2 separate regions of the Homo sapiens genome follow, and region 2 is linked to region 1. Evidence: fine-mapped expression QTL. Tissue or cell type: whole blood. Region 1 holds a variant in brackets; the other region holds the start of a gene. Each region is shown on its reference strand, or each on the opposite one. Region 1 overlaps IKZF1 (IKAROS family zinc finger 1). Region 2 holds the start of ANKUB1 (ankyrin repeat and ubiquitin domain containing 1).

Region 1 (2,500 bases):
GTATGTGTAGTGTGTGTGGTGTGCATGTGTGCATGGGATGTGTGGTGTGTATGGGATATATGGTGTGTGGTGTGTATATGTTTATGGGATGTGTGGTATGTATGTGTGATGTGTATGTGTATGGGATATATGATGTGTATGGGATGTGTGGTGTGTGGTGTGGATATGTATATGGGATGTATGGTGTGTATGTGTGTGAGATGTGTGGTGTGTATATGTGTTGTGTGTGAGATGTGTGGTGTGTATATGTGTTGTGTATGTGTATGGGATGTGTGGTATGTGGTGTGTATGTGTGTATGGGAGGTGTGTTGTGTATGTGTGTGTGGGATGTGTGGTGTGTGGTGTGTATGTGTGTATGGGATGTGTGGTGTGTATGTGTGGTGTGTATGTGTGTATGGGATGTGTGGTGTGTGTGTGGTGTGTATGTGTGTATGGGATGTGTAGTGTGTATGTGTGGTGTGTATGTGTGTATGGGATGTGTGGTGTGTGGTGCATAGTGTGTATGTGTGTATGGGATGTGTGGTGTGTGGTGTGTATGTGTGTTGTATGTGTATGGGATGTGTAGTGTGTATGTGTGTTATATGTGTATGGGATGTGTGGTGTGTATGGGATGTATGGTGTGTATGTGTGTATGGGAAGCGTGGTATGTGGTGTGTATATGTTTATGGGATGTGTGCTGTGTATATGTTTATGGGATGTGTGGTGTGTATGTGTGTATGGGATGTGTGGTGTGTCTGTGGTGTATGTGTGCACATGCATGTGGCAGCTGAGCCACTGGGGTGTTTGCTGTGCCTGGGAGCAGGCCATGTGGGTAGGTAGGCCTGGCTCTATTGATTCCTAGCTGTTGGCCCTGGCAGGTGGCTCTGCTGTTCCTTCATTGTGAGGTGAGGGCGCCCCCTCACCCGATCCTGGCTGTCATGTCTGTGAAGCCTGACCCAGCAGGGCACAGCATAGAGGGCTGTCCAGAGCAGCTGCACTGATATCATCATCATCTGCATTTTGGCCTGCTCCATGTCTGACATTCCTGTTAAGCAGGTGGCTTTAGGGAGAAGCATTGACACACTGACCCCTACAAAAAGCTTACAGTTCCTCAGTGATAAAACACAGGGTGCAGCCCGTGGCCAGGCTGGGTCCCCGGAGAAGACTCAGTTGGCAAACGCCATGTGGTTGCCACAGCTGGAAGCACTGGGGGAGGAGGAGCCCTGCCTGGCCCCGGCGGGGGCAGGGGGAGGGTGCAGGGGGAGGGTGCAGAGGGAGGGGATGAGTCATTTTGCCACAGGCACGCATGTGCTGGTGAAGGGGCGTGCGTGGGGACCATGGGTCACATCTCGGCTGTCCCCTTCTTTAGGAAGGGGTGGAGGTGGCAGGAGTGGGGCGGGTTGCAGGCTCAGAGGCACAGGAGGCCCGCACTCGCTCTGAGGCTGAGGAATAAAGGGTG[T/C]GGTGCTGGAAAGGGAACCCTCAAACCTGCTGACCTGGGAATAGCCCTTCAGGGGGCCTGTCAGATAGCTCGCCCTTGGGACAGGCGGTGGCGAGAGGCCAGGAGGCCTTTGGTGCAGGAGGGGAAGAAAGGCAGGGAGGGGCGTCTCAGAGGGCAGAGAAGGGCATCTCAGCAGCCCCGTGGTGTTTGCCCCTTTGAGGCGGTTCCATCCGTTGGCTGCATTGTCCACTTCGGTGACTGGGGCCACAGTGATTCTGCTGAATGCAATGGGAACTGTACCCAGAGTAGGGGTTCGCATGAGACCAAGGGATGGTGTCTAGCCACGGAACAGTCTGGAAGGTAGGGATGTAAGTCATAGGGCAAGTTCCATCTGTGGGACACTATCAGCTCAGGAGGGACAGCCAACAAAACAGCAGGACCACAGGGGCCCTGGGGAGTAAATGCCTTTAATTGTCTAAGAGAGGAGCAAAGAAGGAGACAGAGTGAGTTGTGTGATTCGGGTAAAATTTCTAGAAAGAAACATGGCGAGAGGAGTTGCTGGGGACAGGATAATGCCCTAGAAAGAGGTGTCTGGGGGTTGGCGGTGGGTTTCCCACAAGCGGCTCGGTAGGATTGGGGCAAAACCAACCATGTGAGAGGGACCGGGAGCGGCACAGGAGAGGAGGCAGCAGCTGTGGGCTGTCAGGCATCAGGAACCAAGGGAAGAAAGAAGACAAGGAGCTGGTTGGGGTCGGGGGTCACAGGACTAGGGGATGGTATTTACAGGGTAGTCTTTTTAGGAGAATGTTTAAATGTGATTGAAGTCCAGTAAGTGGGAGCTAGCAGAATAGAAAGGATTAAAATCTAACTAGCAGCCCCAGGGTAGGCCGGCGTGAGTCACCTATGAGCTGGGCCTGGGCCTGGACTATCCCCTAGGTTTCCTCTTGGCGCTCTTCTCCCTTCCCTCAGGGCTCTGTGCAGTGGTCTCCACACAGAGAGGTCTTCCTGGACACATGCCCTAAGATAGCGTTCTCAGCACTGTTGCTCCTTGCCCTGCCTTATAGCAGCAACGTCACCACTCGT
Region 2 (3,056 bases), not on the chromosome of region 1:
ATGGGAAGAAACTACATCTTTATTTTATTAACTCTAAATGAAATTGAGATTTTCTTTCAACTATACATGTAGGCAGCAAATTAAAGTAGGAGTAGTCGCTGTACCTGTGACTGACACCAATAGAAGTCACAGATGTTTTCATATCACATTATAGTTGTTGCAAATATTTCAAAATATTATTTCTACTGATCTGTATTTTGAAAATAATAGTTATTAGATGAGCTGCTAGAACTTGTTAGTTAATGTGTTAATTAGGAAGTCCACATGTCACTATATCATACATTTGCTTTTTAATATTGGAAAATGTATTTCAATATAACAAATTTCATTTCTATCATATCTGTTTTATTTTATGCATTTAAAGACATTCTGAGAAGCAGTCTATAGACATCACCAGACTTCCAAAGGGGTTAATAAAACATAGAGGTTAAGATCCCTTGTGTTACAAGATTTAGATTTCAATCATCATAATAATCTACTGAATATCATGTAACTATGGTTCAGTAAATGCCGCTTAGCAAATAGGAATGACCATCTCCAAGTTAAATATTTGATGATCAGAAACTAAATATTTTGCTTAATTTTTTATTTTAGAGTGAACATTTATATGAAATTTATAAGGAAGATACTATACCCAAGTTATTTCTTATTCTGGCTCTGTGATCCTAGGTAAGATAGTCAACCTCTCAGAGCTTCAGTTTTTTCTGAATGCAAAATGAAGCCATAGCTCACAAGTTCTCTAAAGTCCTCTCTGCTTCCAAAATCTTCTGTTCTTTGTAGTTGTTTGCTCACCAAATAAGACATTTATCTGATGACTGGCATGTCCCACGTATATAGCCTGAAGTTGGTGTCTTGCTTTGGTCCTTTTATGAAGAATTGCAATAATATTATCTGGCCTATGCACAACCCACACATTCCCTAAAAAGAAGTCAGACTTTTTTTTTTTCTTGATAATTGACTGGCTCTTTTTGCTTTCTTGTCCAACACTACCAGAGTTACTATCTTCTTATAAATCTATTGTGTAAGCAAATAATAGTATTTTCAAATAGTTTTCGTTCCCTGTTTGCTGAAAATGTACCCAATAGCATCTCTACCCTTTGTACATTTTTAAATGCACTGCATTGTTAAAATTAATATACATTTTGGTGGTTTGGGAACGAAGTACATACCTTTATCATCAGCTTGACAACCTCCACAGTTTCATCTGCTGAAACATCAAACGGTTCAAAAGATCCTTCAAAGGCGATGAAAATCCTCATTGTACAATTACCTTTTCAAACAAAAAATATCCAACTTTTTCAAAGATTCTCCTGGATGGCTAGAAAAATTCCGGTTCACAATTAAGGACAAAAATGATAGCCAGAGGCAGCTGTCACTGTCTAGCCTCAAAGGTAAGTTGTAGAATGTGAAGAGCCTAGTCCCACAGTGCCACAGTATCAGGCAACACAGACACCAGCTACTTTGGAGGAAATATTTATCTGCGGAAGGCAGTAGTCAATAGCCACCTTATTCCTATATTACGGAAACCAGCAAACTTGACAATGGTTGAGGCAAGTATGGACAAGCTTCAAGCATGTGATACAAAAATGCTACTCATAAATTACACTTTTGTGATGTGGTCCCCATCAACTGACTCCTGAATTCTTATTTACATAAGTACAGCTGATTGAAGAACCCTTAAAAATAGATATTTGATTGGGATGCACTAGCACAGGGTGAAGCAAAACAAGAGTTGATTTTATTGAATGTGATAATCCTGAAAGTTCTCTGTAAATAACTCTTGAGCTGAAACATTCTGGTTTCCATAACAACTTTGTGTACTTGTTCTCTGGCAGTATTTATAATCCTGCCACAGGGTACAGAACAATACCCACTTGCACCAGGGAGATGAATGTGTAGGCAAATCATTCTGTGGCTTTCTTTTCTGATTTCTGTGTCATAGAATCTGCTGAGTAGCAACACAATATAGTTGGTATTTTCTTTAATCCTTGCCTTTATGTTATTTAGAACAATTTCCCATTGTTATCTCCTTCAACCCCCACTTAGTGTTGGTGGAAAATATTTCAAACCCGCTCAATAAGCGAGCAAATAAGCTGAACATGGTGGCACATGCCTGCTATCCCACCTACTCAGGAGGCTGAGATGGGAGGATAGTTTGAGCCCAGAAGTTTGGGGGTGTAATACGTTGTGATTGCACCTGCGAATAGCCACTGCTTTGCAGCCCAGGGAACATAGCAAGAATCTGTCTCTTCAACATAATAGAAGAAAATACTCCATTTATAAAAGGAAAGATAATGTATTAAGAATAAACTTGGCTGGGTGCGGTGGCTCACGCCTGTAATCCCAGCACTTTGGGAGGCCAAGTTGGGCAGATCACTTGAGGTCAGGAGTTCGAGACCAGCCTGGCCAACATGGTGAAACCTTGTCTCTACTAAAAATACAAAAATTAGCCAGGTGTGGTGGCACATGCCTGTAATCCCAGCTACTCTGGTGGCTGAGGCACAAGAATCACTTGAACCCTGGAGGCAGAGGTTGCAGTGAGCTGAGATCACACCACTGCACTCCAGCCTGGGCAACAGAGTGAGACTCTGTCTCAAAAAAAAAAAAAAAAAAAAAGAAAGAAAGAAAGAGAAAGAAAGAAAGAAAGAAAGAAAGAAAGAAAGAAAGAAAGAAAGAAAGATCTTAACAAGAAATGTGTAAGAGCCGTATAACATAAACATAAAATACAATCAATAAACATAAAAAAGGGCTGAACAAGTGGCAGGTATATCATAACCTTGGATGGAAGGTTCAAAATTATTTAAAGTCATCAATTCTTCCTAAATTTATCTATAAATTAATATTATCTCAATAAAAATACAAGCAAGATTTTTTTTGTTTATGTAAGCAAGATGGTTCTAAAATTCATGTAGAGAAAACAGGCAAGGATAGCTGGAAAAACTCTGGAAAAGAAGAGTAATGAGGGGGCAGTCACCTACTAGATGTTAGAATTTAATATAAGGCTACAGTAATTAAAACAGGATGGTACAGGCACATGAAGAGTCAGAAAAATCAAT

Evidence for each region. PIP is the estimated chance that this variant, and not a neighbour inherited with it, causes the effect. A credible set is the group of variants that fine-mapping cannot tell apart.
Region 2: it holds the start of ANKUB1, and the variant in region 1 is the best candidate, but not a certain one, in a credible set for the expression of ANKUB1 in whole blood (TOPMed, PIP 0.60).

The regions. Positions count from the first base shown.
Region 1 is chr7:50,335,037-50,337,536 of GRCh38, forward strand. All of the region lies in intron 3 of IKZF1 (IKAROS family zinc finger 1), which reads left to right. Among named protein-coding and RNA genes, the nearest start is that of IKZF1, 32 kb to the left of the region's middle. The variant T/C (reference allele first, on the strand shown) is at 1,439.
Region 2 is chr3:149,791,108-149,794,163 of GRCh38, forward strand. It overlaps ANKUB1 (ankyrin repeat and ubiquitin domain containing 1), which reads right to left and starts at 1,447. Exons shown (of 6, transcript NM_001144960.3): 1 at 1,170-1,447. The coding sequence starts at 1,259. RefSeq lists an enhancer at 1-333.